2 separate regions of the Homo sapiens genome follow, and region 1 is linked to region 2. The links come from fine-mapping of genetic effects on gene expression. Tissue or cell type: whole blood. Region 2 holds a variant in brackets; the other region holds the start of a gene. All regions are shown on one strand. Distances are from middle to middle.

Region 1 (8,000 bases), 37 kb before region 2:
ATCTGGGGGCAGGAGTCCTGGACTCTGCCTCACACCCCAGCAAGGTGCTGGGAGGTGCCCTGACAGGGGCCCCCACTTGAGGGAGGGGATGGGTTGGGGTCCTGGGAGCAACCTTGTTACTGGACCGGCCCCTTCCCTGCCAAGTTGTAGGTGGTTAGATCCCAGGGAGGTCCCGGGCCCCCTCCCTGGGAGTTCCCAGGGCCCCCTACTCCTTCCCTCCTAAAGGCTGGCAGGGTGGAGGCTCCCCTACACCCAGCTACACAGGCCCAGGCCGGGGCAGGGGCATCCAGGTGGGATCCTGGACTCTGGACTTTCGGTCGCCACGCAGACCACCCCACAGAGCTCCATGAGGCCCCCCCATTTCTGAGCACCCCAGGTTTGCCTGCTTGTCATGGGGCTGGGCCCGCCTGCACAGGGCACCAGCCCAAGCGCTTCTCCTTGCCACTTGGGAAGAAAAGGAGCTGGGTGGGCAAGAGGAGCCTCGGGGAGCATCTGTGGAGAGCCCAAGGAGCCCGGATGCTGACCCTCTCCAGATCTCCGACACTGGGCACCACCTAAGCCTGTCTGCACCCCCTCTGGCATGGGGGCCCACCTGAAACCCCCCAGGTGTGAACCCAGTGGCAGCCTTTGGGTCGGGCCTCGGGGAGTGGGCAGGCGTGAGGCATGTCACCTGCACGGGTGACTTGTCTCCTGGAGCCCTAAGGCGGTGGCCATGCTCCTGGCATGGTGCCTGGCCTGGAAGGCTTTGAAGAGCCCCAAGTCTGTGGAGGGCCTGCCCCGTGAGTGGTGCCTGGGGCTGCGTGGCCTGTGAGCTGGGCACACACAGCAAGTGGCAGAGGGGCCAGGGGCCAGGCAGCGGTGGGTCAGAGTCCTTCATTCCTGGTTAGTGTCAACCCGGAGCCTGGTCTCTGTGCTTTCCAACAACCACATGTCCCAGAGGCCGTCAGGAGCCCAGCAGTGGCCCAGCTGGGGTCACAGCCAGGGAGGAAAAAGCACCACTCCTTCCAAACGGGCTGTTTCCAGACCCTGCCTAGGCCAGGAAGGCCGGACTATCCCTTGGCCCCATCCTTCTGGCAGCAGGAACCTGCAGACCCTCGGAGGCTGGAGGCAGGTGGCAGCCCTGGGGGAAGGCGGGCTCCAGGCCTGGGGGAGGGGTCTGGCTATGGCTCAGGGTCTTCCTGGGCTCTGCCTCCATTCCTTTGAGGCCAGCCCCCCAGGGTCTGCAACTCCGGGCTGGCTCTTACAGCAGTCTGTCCAGGCTGAGGGCAGTGGGGGCCTCCTAGGCCAAGAGGCCCAGAAGCTCTCCCAGTCCGCTGGGTTTATGCAATCCTGATGAGACCTTGTCTTCCCGGCACCTGCTGTTCTGTGTCCTCCTCCCAGAGGACTGAGCTGGCCCACGCGAACAGTTCAGAACCAGCCTTGCTGCCCGCTCCCAGCTTCTCTATTTCATGGACAGGGATGGAGGTTCTTACCAGCCGGCTCCACGGAAGGGCATCCCAGCAGCCCTGAGAAAGGGACTGTGGCCTCCGATATCCCAAACCACAGCGCTGGCGTTCCTCCAGACCTCATCCCGCTGAGACAACATTCCCAGTTCTGGAGTGGGAGCCACAAGGCCTCACCCGCAGGCCCGGCCCTAGCAGGAGCCCAGCCTCCAGCCCTCCTTCTTGCTCAGCCCCCGCTTCCTCTTGGGGGCTTCTCCCGAGGGTACAGCACCCACTTGGACCCTGGGCTCTGGGACAGGAGGGTCTGCAGAGTCATCTGTTACTGATTGTGGCTGCCTGTGATGCAGCTGAGTGTGGGCGTGGGGGTGCCCCATGTCCTCAGCACAGCGGTGTCCCCAGGAGGCTCCCAAGGTCAGGAGTTCACGACTCACGGCTGAGTCAGATGTGCCTGTGGCCTACCCTCAGGGTCCCCCACAGCTGCCTGCAGGTGTGGCCGAGTAGGGTGGGGGCATTCTCAGGAATGCCACTGGAGTAGCACTGGGGGCTCAGGTGAGGTGGCTGCCCCCAGGGCTCCGCAGCAGACCTTGTCCCAGGGCTGGGGGAGGATCTGAGACCCCTTCCCCAGGGCCAGGAGTGCCCCTACTTCTCTCGGGCTGCCACTGACCCCTGCCCCCGACCCACCTCCTCTGGGGCTCCATCACCCTGGAGCTGGGTGGGCAGGGGCTCTGGATCTTGGATTGTCCCTGGAGGGCAGCCAGAGCCTGGTGGGACAGAGGCTCCTCCACGGCCCTCCCCTGGCGAGCCACCTCCTTTTACCCTCCCCTCCACTCCCAGACTGGGCAGCTCCCTCCTGTGGATTCAGGACAGGACGTGTTTGGGGGTGGGGTGCCGTCTGACCTGTTGCAGGGAGGAGGACTACGTCACGGGCGGGTGCCCGAAAGATGCCCAGTAAATAGGAGTAAGAAATGAATGATGGACAAACTTCCTCTTGCTTTACTAACTTGTGTGCTCTTGATTGACCCTGGCCTTTTTGGCCTCAGTTTCCCCATTTGTAAATAGAAGAGGTGGCTGGGCTGCGCAGGACTCAGAAAGACAAGGAGACAGGCTCGCTGGTCCATTTGGTGATGACTCACTGGAACCATGACAAAGACAGCAGGGGTGGGGGTGTGCAGAGATGAGCTGCCCCTCTCCCTGCTCACCTCCCCAACCCCCTGTGTGTAGCCCGGCTGGGACAGCCCCCCCGCCCTCCATACGCTCAGCTCCTGCCCCAGCTGCCTCCTTCCCAGTCCGTGCACCAGCAGACACAGGGTGGGGGCAGAGTGTGGGCTCTTTACCCAGCCCCTGGGCCACATTCTCTTGTCCACTGCGCTGCCCGCCTGCCTGCCAGTTGCTCCCGGGGCAGCTGTCTGCCGGGAAGCAGTGAGCCCGGTGATTAACCCTGCTGGTGCTGGCAGCTCCGGCTGACACAGCGCATTCTCAGGGCCGGCCCCCGCTCCCCTCCTGGCCAGTGCCGGGGGACAGCGGAGGCCTGGCAGCTTGGCCTGATCTGGCCGCTAGGAGGCTTAAAGTGCTCTCCCCACCCCCACCTCTCCCCCTGCCCCGCCACTCGCAATCCCACCCCTCCAACCACCCGACCCTCCAGGGATCCCAAGAAGCCCTCAGGGTCTCAGGAGTCTCCACCTCCAGTCCCCCAGGCTGTCAGAGCCCCAAGCTGTCAAGGGGGAGCCCAGAGCCAGAGCACACTGCCTGGGGCCAAGCCCCCACCTGGGGACCCGCTACTGCCCAGAGGCCACTCTCTGCCTCACACGGGATCTAAAGCAGCTCAGAGCCGGACTCTGCGCCTGGACTGCAGATTCCTTGATGTCTCCGCCCCCTCTCCAGCCAGCCCCTCCCCCACTTGGAGCTTCTCCTGCCAAGGGGAGCCGCCTCCTCTCCCCCCTCCCCCAGGTGGGAGAACTAATAGTGAAGTTATGGAAGAATTGCCGGGCCGGAAAGTAGGAGGAGGGAGAGAGGGTCCCATCGCCCTCCCGACTCCGTAGAGAAAGGGCCATACACCCTCTTGGGATTTGAGATTTGCAGGAGGCCAGGGCGCCAGGAAGGTGTGCAAGGAGGTGCACCCTCCAGGGACAGCTGCTAGCTCAGAACCCCCACCAGAACCGGCTGGCCAGTGCCCCACAAACCCACCCAGCCCCCCGGGACTGTCCAGGGAACCCAGCGAGAGATGAGCCCCACAGCCCATCTGGGACCATGGCCCGCCCAGCTGGCCTGGCTCAGGGATGGGGGTTTGCTGCCAGCTCGGCAGCTGCAGCCCCACCCCGCCGCCACCCCCTCGGGGCTTCCCTGGAGGCAGATTTGGCCCCGGAGCCCAAGGGAAGTAGGAGACCCAGGGCCGCAGCCACCCAAAGGCAGACGAAGACCTGATCTCGGCCTCTAGGTCCTGTGCTGTTTGCCAGGCGTCCTCGAGCCGCCGATCGTGGCAGGAACGCGTGCGCGGCTGTGCAGCGGGTTGGAGGCCAGGCCGAGAGAGCTGGTGGAGTCCACCGGGCCCCGGAGCACAGGTGCTTCCAGGCACCCAGCAGGTGCTCAGCAGCTGTGACCAGAGCCCCCGACCTCCTTAAGAGCCAATTTGGCGGCTGTGGGGCCATGAGCACCGCCCCCGTCCTCTAAAGGGGGCTGCAGCTGCAGGCCAGTCCCTCCTGCCCCTATTTCCCTATCTGAGAGTATTTTTAAGCCCTGCTGGGGCAGGCGGGAGCCAGGCCGAGTTGAACCTGACCTGGCTGCCCCAGGAAGCAGGGGGTTCCCACCTAGGCTGCCCCGTTCCTCTGCAGATGGTCATTCGCGGGTGCAGAGGGCACCTTCCCGCAGCCAGCAGGACGGACGCTGTTGGGGGAGGAGCGGGGGCAGCCGAGTGGTGCACCCAAGTTAGGGGAACAAAGAGTGGGCCCCTGGGCTGGGAGGAGCTGGTGGGCGCTCTGGGGGCCAGGGCGTCGTGGGGAGCGCTAGGGTCCCACCCGGGACCCGGAGCTACGACCTGGGCTGGGGGCCCGGCGGCGCCGTCGTCCCACGGCCTGGCCCGAGGCCAGCAGGTGCCCCTTCCGGGAGGCGGCCGGGCCGGGGTCCGAAGGGTTAAGGCCGCCCGGCCGCCCCTCCCCCTCCTCTCTCCTTCCCCCCCCCACCCCGCCTCCCCGGACCTCTCCCCGGGGCTCGGGGCTCGGGCGCTCGGGCGGGCCGGGGCGGGGCCTGACGTCCGCGGGCGGAGCGAGCCCTGCCGGCCGCCTGGCTTCAGACCCGCCGGGCTCCCGCCGCGCGCGCTGTCCCTGGAGCTCGGGGACGCGGCCCGGAGCCGGGAAGATGGCGAAGCGGCTCTGCGCGGGGAGCGCACTGTGTGTTCGCGGCCCCCGGGGCCCCGCGCCGCTGCTGCTGGTCGGGCTGGCGCTGCTGGGCGCGGCGCGGGCGCGGGAGGAGGCGGGCGGCGGCTTCAGCCTGCACCCGCCCTACTTCAACCTGGCCGAGGGCGCCCGCATCGCCGCCTCCGCGACCTGCGGAGAGGAGGCCCCGGCGCGCGGCTCCCCGCGCCCCACCGAGGACCTTTACTGCAAGCTGGTAGGGGGCCCCGTGGCCGGCGGCGACCCCAACCAGACCATCCGGGTGAGCGCAGGGGCGGGCCGTGGGGCTTCCTCCCGGGGCACTCGGACCCGGAACACCGGCCCGACCCCAGGGGGAGCGCCGTGGCCCGGGGCGAGTCCAGGTGCGGACTCTCTGGTTCCGCATTTTGGGGGCCCAAGAAGGCACCCCGACCCGGCCGCTCCGTCTCGGCCGGGAAACTTCGCGTCCCTCCGGGAAGGCGGAATTAAAGTCCCCGGCATGGACCCGGGGGCGGCTGGGCGCCGGTCCAGTTCGACTGCGGTGACCGGGGCGGGAGGGGGGCCGGGCCCAGTCCCTGGCGGCCCCAAGTCCGGGATCCCGGGGAGGGCGGGACTTGGCCTCCGCCGCCTGCTGCCGGTGGGGAGGGGGCGCAGCTCCGCCCTACCCGGGACAGGCTGGAACCTGTTGGCCTCTGGATGGGGTGGGAGGGGCCAGCCACCTGAGGCTCCCACTAGCCCCTCTCGGAGGAGTCTAGGGACTCGAGGAGACCTCCAAAGTAGGGGAGGGCCAGCTGCGAAGTTTTGACTGGGGCTGGGAACACGTGGCTCCCAGGAGGGGCAGCATCTCTGCCCAGCAGGTGGTAGGGTCCGGGGGCTTCAGTCTCCCTGGGAGATGTGGGTTCAGGCCCTGAAGACCCCCTGGGGTGCATGTCCCCTCCCCAACAAGCCTTAAACCTGTAGGCGGGTTCTGTTGGTGGACTCCATGCATGGACACCTCACCTGAAAACCAAGGCTCTTGGGGCCCTGTAGACTTAGGTTGGGCCTGGGGTCAGCCTTGGGTGAGGAGCAGCAAAGTCAGCTCCAACGGCTCCCAACCGGCCGCTCTAGGCCCATTCCCCACCTCAGCCCCACCTTAGGGAGAGTCTAGGGGCCCTGAGGGCCTGTGTAACCTGAGCTGTCTCCTCCCTGGTACCTCTGCCTTCCCGGAAGGAGAGGCTGGGGCAGGGGCGAGTAGCTGGAGATTTGCTGGGTGGGGGCAGAGGGCCCTGGAGCAAGACGTTATGGGGATGAATGGAGGAGCCTGGGCTGGGCCCGCCCCCTCTGCCTGCCCCACCCCCTTGGCCCTGGTGGAGGGGGAAGGAGCCTCCCCAGGCTTCTGGGCTCACCGTTCTCTCCTTAAGCCCAGCACAGTCCTCTGAGATAGGAGGTCTCAAGCCCACACTTCAGATGGGGGATCTGAGCCCTGGAAAGCTGCTGACACCTGCTTGGAGCCCCCCAGCCAGAACAGGGTCCAGCGGGGGTTAGCTGTGGGAACCTGGGTGCCTCCTGGCTGCCCCCTTATCTGGTCAACTCAGAGGGGCCGGGTCTCAGGACGGAGGGCCTGTGACTGTCTCCTTACCTGCTGCCACACCTCACCACAGAGGGCCTGGCTGAGTGTCCCCAGCTGAGATTTTGCCGTTCTGGCAGGGGAGGCTCCAGGTGCCCTGTGAACCTCAGACCACCCCCCCACAGCCTGCCCATGCTGCGTGGCTGGGGGCCACAGGCCCCCTCTCAGATCTGTCTCCTCTGTGGGGGCTTATTACCCCCGTCTCGTGAGTAAAGGGCCAGCCTGTAGTCAACGCCCCTCTCCTCTGCCTCAGCTGTGTGGCTTCCCTCTGTCAGCCTCAAGCTGTCTTTAAAATGGGCACAGCGTGCTGGCCCCCCTCACCTGAGACTGTGAGCTTGGCCCGAGGAGCCTGGGAAGTGGCCACAGTTTCAGTGGCAGCTGTGGGCTGTGGTGCTCCATGCCTCAGAGCCAGCTTGGATGAGAAACCAGCCGGCCTCGCCCAGCTCATGTCTAGCAATAGAGGTGAACCCTTCGCTTCCAAAGTCTCGAGCTCTGAGCAGTGAGTGCCCGCTGAGGCTGCCAGATATGTAGAAAGATCAGCTGGTAGACGTGAGCTGGACGGGTATGACCTTGGATGCCTCCTTCATCTGAGAGCCGCGGGTCTGCTGACCGCCCTGGCCGCGGATTGGGCGTGTGAGAAGTCCTTGCCGGCCGGTCTGGAGTGGAGCTGCGGTTGGGGCAAGGCAGGCAGGCACAGGAGGTGCCCAGGCGATGAAGCCGCAGCTCCATCTGAGGGGGCTCACTAAGGCTATGGGGCCTGGGGCTGGGCAGTGTGTTCTCAAGGCTGCAGGCCAGGGGCTCTCAGGGACCCTCTGTAGGAGATGCACATTAGCTGGGCATCCCAGATGGGGGTCGGGGTGAACCCTGCTGGGCAGCTGGAGCAGGCAGAGGGCAGGGGGAGGTTGTGGCCCTCACAGCCCCAGGTGGGCATCAGGGGATCCCTGGCCGGCCCAGCCTGGGAAGGTGGGGACTGGGCAGCCAGGCCAGCATGGTGACTCATTGGAAGGGGAAGTCCTTATCGGCCCTTCTGCTGTTTCCTAGCTCTGTTCTCACGGGACCCTCCGCAGCGGAGGTGGGGGAGCCTGGTTTTCCCAACCCTGTCCTCTGTGGCTCAGTGAGTGGCCGAATGGGGACTGGAACTGCCTCCCAATAACTGGACCAACGCTGGCCCAGGCAGGGACTGAGCAGGTGCTTCCCTGACCTCCTGGAAGAGTAGAGGCTGACCCTTGACCCGCAACCTTCCACCCAGCTTCCCTCTGCTGCTCGTGTGTCTGGGAGGGTCTTGACCAGCAAGCAGCCTTCCCTGGGAGGTCCGGCTGTCCCAGCCAGAGGGCGCCGCCCACACCTACCTTCTCCAGGAGCCCCTGGCCCCACCCTGAGCAGGACCTGTGTGCGCCGTGCTGTCATTGAGCTCTTGAGTTTGGGGGCCACCATCAAAGCTTGCAGTGCGGCCTGCGGGTAGGGGTCGTGGCGCTTAACTGGGTGTCTTCAGTTGCTCTAGCCCCATCCACGAGAATGCTTAGGTGGTGAGCTGGGGACACAGCGGGAATAAGGAGGGTGTGGACCCTGCCACTGCAGAGCTCTGGG
Region 2 (8,000 bases):
CTGGAGCCAGGCTCTCCTGCCCCACCAAGCATCTGAGTCCTGCCCTGCTCTCCCCAGGCTGCAGCTGCGACCTCAGGGGCACACTGGGTGGAGTTGCTGAGTGCCAGCCGGTGAGTCTGAGGACCAAGGTGTGGGGGATTTGGGGGCACACTGGTCAGGACCCTCCCCTGCCCCACTTCACCTCCTCCCTTGGCCCCCAGGGCACCGGCCAGTGCTTCTGCAAGCCCCACGTGTGCGGCCAGGCCTGCGCGTCCTGCAAGGATGGCTTCTTTGGACTGGATCAGGCTGACTATTTTGGCTGCCGCAGTGAGTGCCCACTCGCTCGTCCCAGACCACAGCCCTGCCTCCCCTCGGTTTATGCTGGGGAACCCAAGGCCCGGAGGGACAAGTGCAGCCTGGGCAGCATGAAGCCCGGGTGATGGATGGCTGCCCCTTGGTGCCAGCCTGTGCCAGGGTGTGGGAGAGGGGGTGCAGCTCCCACCCAGATGCGTGGCTTCCTCTCCCCTGTCCTACACCTGGGCAGACGGCACTAACAGATCCCAGCGCCCTCACCCTCGCCCTCGCCCTCGCCCTGAGCCCTGAGCCCTGAGCCCTGACTCTCCATCATCCAGAGAGCCCCAGGCAGGCTTCTCAGTCTGGCTGTGAGGGGCCCCTGAGGCTGGGTGGGGGCCAGGCAGCCTCTGACCTCCCACCTTCTCCCTGCAGGCTGCCGGTGTGACATTGGCGGTGCACTGGGCCAGAGCTGTGAACCGAGGACGGGCGTCTGCCGGTGCCGCCCCAACACCCAGGGCCCCACCTGCAGCGAGTGGGTACCCCTTCCCCACTGGGTGGTGGGGAGCGGGGCAGGCAGCTTGTCCTCCGGGCCTCTCCGTGTCCCTCACCATGGGCCCACGTGAGGCCTCACCCTCCCTGGAGACCCGGGGCCGCTGTGCAGGGCTAGGTAGGATGGCCAAGCTGCACCTGACCAGCCCCTGCTGTGGCCAGGCCTGCGAGGGACCACTACCTCCCGGACCTGCACCACCTGCGCCTGGAGCTGGAGGAGGCTGCCACACCTGAGGGTCACGCCGTGCGCTTTGGCTTCAACCCCCTCGAGTTCGAGAACTTCAGCTGGAGGGGCTACGCGCAGATGGCACCTGTCCAGGTGGGCGCTGTGCTCCCCCTCCCAGGCTCAGCCTAGAAGTGGAGCCAGGCGTGGCTGGCAGGGAGGGGTGGGCAGGCCCCTTGAAGGCCCAGGCCTCAGGCTGGCAGTGGTCAGGGAGAGTGACCCGACGCTCCATGCCCACCCAGCCCAGGATCGTGGCCAGGCTGAACCTGACCTCCCCTGACCTTTTCTGGCTCGTCTTCCGATACGTCAACCGGGGGGCCATGAGTGTGAGCGGGCGGGTCTCTGTGCGAGAGGAGGGCAGGTCGGCCACCTGCGCCAACTGTGAGTGGGGTCCCTGGGCCACAGCCCCTGCCCCACCAGCCCAGCCCACCCCACCCCACCCCACTCCCAAGCCCCGCCACCTTCCTCTGGCTCATGTGGGTGGTAGGACCAGCCTATCCCCAACCCTGTAGGGGGTGCAGCCTGGGGTGGCCCCAAGGGCTGGGCTCAGGAGTCTCACCCCTGCCCCCGCCCAGGCACAGCACAGAGTCAGCCCGTGGCCTTCCCACCCAGCACGGAGCCTGCCTTCATCACCGTGCCCCAGAGGGGCTTCGGAGAGCCCTTTGTGCTGAACCCTGGCACCTGGGCCCTGCGTGTGGAGGCCGAAGGGGTGCTCCTGGTGAGGCAGGGGCCAGAGTGAGGGCTGGGGGCCGGGTCAGGGGGTGGGGCCCACCACTCTCAGCACCACCTCCACCCTGCAGGACTACGTGGTTCTGCTGCCTAGCGCATACTACGAGGCGGCGCTCCTGCAGCTGCGGGTGACTGAGGCCTGCACATACCGTCCCTCTGCCCAGCAGTCTGGCGACAAGTGAGGGCCATGCGTGCGGTGGGACCGGGGTGGGGGCTTCCTGGACCCCCACTGTGCCTGGCTTCCCCCACTCAGGCTGTCTCTGGGGACCTGGGTGGACCTGGGGCTGACCACGGCCTGTGTCCCCCCAGCTGCCTCCTCTACACACACCTCCCCCTGGATGGCTTCCCCTCGGCCGCCGGGCTGGAGGCCCTGTGTCGCCAGGACAACAGCCTGCCCCGGCCCTGCCCCACGGAGCAGCTCAGCCCGTCGCACCCGCCACTGATCACCTGCACGGGCAGTGATGTGCGTGTCCTGGGACCCCACGGAGCAATGGGTGTTGCAGGACCTTGGCCTGGGGGCTGGGGGTCCTGTGGCGGTGGCAGGTTATAGGAGCAGGGCGCTGCCTCAGGCAATGGAGCCCAGCACCCAGGCAGGGCGCCCCTGCCTCCTGCCTCCTGCCTCCTGCATGTGTGACCTCAGTGCCTGTCTGTATGTAGGATTGGCTGTGGCCTCCACATACAGCTCAGCCCCCACCACTTGCCTGGAGATGTCCGGGCCAGGGTGGGACTCGGCTGAAGGGCAGGCCCTGGGGTCAGGGAGGCGCTGGAGTGGGAGGGGAGGGAGGTGGGAAGGGCGAGGGGTGGCGGGCCTCCCGTCACCCTGCCTTCCCTGCAGGTGGACGTCCAGCTTCAAGTGGCAGTGCCACAGCCAGGCCGCTATGCCCTAGTGGTGGAGTACGCCAATGAGGATGCCCGCCAGGAGGTGGGCGTGGCCGTGCACACCCCACAGCGGGCCCCCCAGCAGGGGCTGCTCTCCCTGCACCCCTGCCTGTACAGGTGAGTGGGAGCCGGTGGGGCTGGAGTAAGGGCACGCCCGGGGCTGCCCCACCTGCTGACCACCCTCCCCCCACAGCACCCTGTGCCGGGGCACTGCCCGGGATACCCAGGACCACCTGGCTGTCTTCCACCTGGACTCGGAGGCCAGCGTGAGGCTCACAGCCGAACAGGCACGCTTCTTCCTGGTAAGGACCCCTCAGGTCCCCACCCCAAGGGGTCAGCTTCTTTCAGAAGATTTGAAACATGCATGAGAGGGGAGAGGACAGTTGGGGTCCCAGGTCCCCAAGGCGGCCACACTCGCTCATGCCCAGCCCAGCATGTTTCTTCTGGAACCCCTCCTGCAAGCGTTTTGTGGATTCAGTCCCTTTTGACGTACCCCCGAGCTGTTCCATGTGCTC[A/G]GGAAAGCACCTGCAGTCACAGCTCCCTGGCCCCAGGGCAGCCACCTCCTGGCACAGACAGCGTTGGTTGCCTGTTCTGGAACTTTCTTTTCTTTTTTTTTTTTTTTGAAATGGAGTCTCACTCTGTCGCCCAGGCTGGAGCGCAATGGCAAGATCTTGGCTCACTGCAACCTCCACCTCCTGGGTTCAAGCGATTCTCGTGCCTCAGTCTCCCAAGTACCTGAGACTATAGGCACTCACCACCACGCCTGGCTAATTTTCGTATTTTTAGGAGAGACAGGGTTTCACCATATTGGCCAGGCTATTCTCAAACTCCTGACCTCAGGTGATCCGCCCTCTTGGGCCTCCCAAAATGCTGGGATTACAGACAGGAGCCACCATACCTGGCCTGGCACTTTCTATAAATGCCACACAACATGTTCTGTGCAGCCGCGTCTCCCACCGTTGTGTCAGCGGATAAGTTGCCGTGTTCCGAGACACCAACCTCACATGGCCGCACGGAAAGGGAGCACCCATTTGCGGCTTGTGCCTGCTGAGTGCCTGCCTGGGTCAGGTCCTGGGAGAGCTGGGCCTGGCCCGGCCTGGTGGCACCAAGCAGCACTCGAGATAAGAGTGGGGGAACAGTGACGGATGGGAGGGCGAGGGGGAGGAAGAGGGCTATGGGAGGAGCCGCATAGGCCTGTGGGCCCAGGAACTGGCCAACACGCTGGTCTGCGGTTGGGGTTTGTGCAGCTGGAGGAGGAGCAAGGGCATCTTGGAAAGAGCAGGGCTCGGTCGGACGCCTGGGTTTGCAGTTTCCTGGGTCTGAGCTGTGTGACCGGCCCCCCCATCGTACCGCCTGCACCCCCCATCGTACCGCCTACACCCCCCCATCGTACCGCCTGCACCCCCCCCATCGTACCGCCTGCACTCCCCATCGTACCGCCTGCACCCCCCCATCGTACCGCCTGCACCCCCCCATCGTACCGCCTGCACCCCCTATCCTCCCCGCACCACGGGCGTTGCAGCATCTCGTCCCTCTGCCTGCAGCACGGGGTCACTCTGGTGCCCATTGAGGAGTTCAGCCCGGAGTTCGTGGAGCCCCGGGTCAGCTGCATCAGCAGCCACGGCGCCTTTGGCCCCAACAGGTAATGGCAGGTAATGGGGCTGGGAGGGGCGCGGCCGAGGGCCCGGCGGCAGGGCCGGCTCTGACTCACCCACTGTGCTCTCACCAGTGCCGCCTGTCTGCCCTCGCGCTTCCCAAAGCCGCCCCAGCCCATCATCCTCAGGGACTGCCAGGTGATCCCGCTGCCGCCCGGCCTCCCGCTGACCCACGCGCAGGATCTCACTCCAGCCATGTCCCCAGCTGGACCCCGACCTCGGCCCCCCACCGCTGTGGACCCTGATGCAGAGCCCACCCTGCTGCGTGAGCCCCAGGTGAGGGCCATAGTCTCTAGAGGGACGGGGGTGTCAGGGCAGGACTCCGGGTCCCAACCCAGGGCAGGTTGTCCAGGGGGCAGCAGGGGCTCATAGCTCAGCCTGCTCACTAGGGCCTATCCCTGCAGGCCACCGTGGTCTTCACCACCCATGTGCCCACGCTGGGCCGCTATGCCTTCCTGCTGCACGGCTACCAGCCAGCCCACCCCACCTTCCCCGTGGAAGTCCTCATCAACGCCGGCCGCGTGTGGCAGGGTGAGTGTCTGGTGTGGGGGGTGGAGAGGCTACCACACACGATGAGGCTGGAATGCCGGCGCCACAGCGTGGCCTGTGCTACCTGCTATGAGCGACAGGCAACATGACTCTGTCCTGCCATCAGTTCTCAAACTAGCTGCCCTTGCAGCCCGCAGCCCCTACCCGCCCGCTCCCGTTCCCAGAAAAGCCTGGGTCTCGCCTCTGTCTCGTGCGTTGGGAAGCCCCGTTGTGCTCCATGGCACGTGGCGAATTGAGGGCTTGCCCCAGGATGCCGCTGGCAGCACATGTGGCCCTGTGTGTTTGTCTGGTTCCTGGCTCGGCCAAGCCTGGGGTCCCGCACATGGAGTTGACCGGTACCTAGAGGTGTCCCGCATGACATCTGTAGGTCATGATGCGGCCAACCCCCGTGACATGAGGGGCCGGCCTTGCAGACCTCTTGGGCACGTCCCGTGCCTGTGGCCGTTGGCCAGCGGGCACTCCTTGGCTGCCCCAACGCTGCCATCTTCAACCCTCTGGGTGTCTTGGGGGCGCTAGAGATGGGGGCCTGACCCTGCCTTTCTCCCCCGCCCAGGCCACGCCAACGCCAGCTTCTGTCCACATGGCTACGGCTGCCGCACCCTGGTGGTGTGTGAGGGCCAGGCCCTGCTGGACGTGACCCACAGCGAGCTCACTGTGACCGTGCGTGTGCCCAAGGGCCGGTGGCTCTGGCTGGTGAGTCCCAGCTGATGTCCTGCTCAGGGACCAGCTGTCCTTATACTTGTCATTACCACTGTGGTACACTTGGGCTGGGTCTGTCTCTTCTGGGCCTGCTGAGGCCTGGCCTTGTGCCCAGCAAAGCAGCTCCTGCCTTTGGGGACCTCCCGATCCACCTTGTGAGGCTCCAGAGGGGCCCTGGACCCTGCACCCTGCACCCTGCTGGTCAGGGTGGCCTTCCTGGAGGAGGTGGGGCCTCCAGGAAGGAGAGGGAAGAGGAAGGCGTGGCCAGCAGACAGAGATGTGGGAGACACCAGGAGGTCTCATGAATGCTGCTGCCTCCTCATGCCCCCGAAAGCTGCTGTTTGGCTTGGAGTGGCCTCCCCTGAGCAGCCAGGGCCCAGGGCTGGGCTGGGCTGGGCTGGGCTGCTGCTGCCAGGACTCTGAGCTGCCTGCAGGACCCTGGTCCCAGCCAGCCTCTGGGGGCCTCCCCGCTGCAGGCTCTGGGCCCGCGGGAGAGTGACCAGGCCTCACCCCCTAGGATTATGTACTCGTGGTCCCTGAGAACGTCTACAGCTTTGGCTACCTCCGGGAGGAGCCCCTGGATAAATCCTATGACTTCATCAGCCACTGCGCAGCCCAGGGCTACCACATCAGGTGGGCAGGGCTCTGGCAGGTCAGGGGTCCGGGGTGGGGGTCTGGGCCGGGAGCTGGCCTCACCACGTGCCCCTCCATGTAGCCCCAGCAGCTCATCCCTGTTCTGCCGAAACGCTGCTGCTTCCCTCTCCCTCTTCTATAACAACGGAGCCCGTCCATGTGGCTGCCACGAAGTAGGTGCTACAGGCCCCACGTGTGAGCCCTTCGGGGGCCAGTGTCCCTGCCATGCCCATGTCATTGGCCGTGACTGCTCCCGCTGTGCCACCGGATACTGGGGCTTCCCCAACTGCAGGCGTGAGTACCCCAGTCCTTGGGCGCCCAGTGGCAGGGAGTTGGTGCCAGAGCCCAAGGTGGACGGGTCGACCAGAAAGCAGGGTCAGGAGAATGTTCTAGAGCCTGGCAGGGCAGCATTGCTGCCCCATCTGCGGGCCTGGGCCCAGGACTCCAGCTTGCGGGCCATGCAGAAGGTTTCAGGGACCAGCAGGTGGTCCACAGTCTCTGACGATGATGTTGATTCTGAGCAGCTGCCTCCATGTCAGGAGCTGTCCAAGGCTCAGCACCCGGGGCAGGGGTCCCTGTTCTTGTCTCCCCCGCCCCCGTCACACTGCCACATCCCCTAGGGCTGCATTCTGGGCCTCTGAGAGGGGCGGGACTGGGAAGAGGGGTCAGTAAACCCTGTACCCGCCCCACAGCCTGTGACTGCGGTGCCCGCCTCTGTGACGAGCTCACGGGCCAGTGCATCTGCCCGCCACGCACCATCCCGCCCGACTGCCTGCTGTGCCAGCCCCAGACCTTTGGCTGCCACCCCCTGGTCGGCTGTGAGGAGTGTAACTGCTCAGGGCCCGGCATCCAGGAGCTCACAGACCCTACCTGTGACACAGACAGCGGCCAGTGCAAGTGAGAGCCCAGAGCGGCGTCAGCGCGGCCCCTGGTGGCCTTAAGGACAGCATTTCCTCTAGCCAGAGGGTCCTGGCACCCACCCTGCTCCCATTTGTGCTCCCTGGGTGCAGCAGCGCCCTCTCCTCCACTTCTGGGAGGATGCTGCCTGGGTGGGGGGTGCCTACGAGGTCTCACTTTGGTGTGAGTGACCTGGGGTGGAGGGGGCTCAGCTCCCGCCCCTGCCACAGGTGCAGACCCAACGTGACTGGGCGCCGCTGTGATACCTGCTCTCCGGGCTTCCATGGCTACCCCCGCTGCCGCCCCTGTGACTGTCACGAGGCGGGCACTGCGCCTGGCGTGTGTGACCCCCTCACAGGGCAGTGCTACTGTAAGGTGAGTGAGGGCTGGGCCCAGATCTGGCCTCTCCCTCCGGCCTCATCAGCTGAAAGTGTCCTTACGGGCCTTTCGGGGCAGCTGGGGCTTCCTAGAAGCTTTTGGGAGAGTCATCCCCATTGGCAGGTGGGTACCAGGAACCCGGGGTCAGGCACCTGGCACCTGCCGACCACTCTCACTGTCCTCTCATCCCTAGGAGAACGTGCAGGGCCCCAAATGTGACCAGTGCAGCCTTGGGACCTTCTCACTGGATGCTGCCAACCCCAAAGGTTGCACCCGCTGCTTCTGCTTTGGGGCCACGGAGCGCTGCCGGAGCTCGTCCTACACCCGCCAGGAGGTGCGCCTGCAGGACTGAGGGCATTGCCTTCTCGGGGAGGTCTTAGGTGGGACTGGATGCAAGATGGGGCCCTGTGATGTGTGGGCATCCACCCGTGTGCAGCCACACGTGTGTGCCCACAGTTCGTGGATATGGAGGGATGGGTGCTGCTGAGCACTGACCGGCAGGTGGTGCCCCACGAGCGGCAGCCAGGGACGGAGAT

What was found. PIP is the estimated chance that this variant, and not a neighbour inherited with it, causes the effect.
Region 1: LAMA5 starts here. The variant in region 2 is fine-mapped to the expression of LAMA5 in whole blood (TOPMed, PIP above 0.99).

Annotation. Positions count from the first base shown.
Region 1 is chr20:62,364,039-62,372,038 of GRCh38, reverse strand. LAMA5 (laminin subunit alpha 5) reads left to right here and starts at 4,727. Exons shown (of 80, transcript NM_005560.6): 1 at 4,727-5,090. The coding sequence starts at 4,794. RefSeq lists enhancers at 327-1,024, 2,425-3,124, 5,223-5,922, 6,621-7,320, 7,321-8,000 and silencers at 4,604-5,043, 7,372-7,666.
Region 2 is chr20:62,327,327-62,335,326 of GRCh38, reverse strand. It overlaps LAMA5 (laminin subunit alpha 5), which reads left to right. Exons shown (of 80, transcript NM_005560.6): 19 at 58-110; 20 at 201-306; 21 at 706-805; 22 at 985-1,141; 23 at 1,288-1,426; 24 at 1,621-1,763; 25 at 1,846-1,952; 26 at 2,084-2,237; 27 at 2,610-2,770; 28 at 2,847-2,955; 29 at 4,198-4,295; 30 at 4,383-4,584; 31 at 4,713-4,839; 32 at 5,411-5,550; 6 more. MIR4758 (microRNA 4758) reads left to right here and starts at 2,770; the gene lies at 2,770-2,840. The variant A/G (reference allele first, on the strand shown) is at 3,169.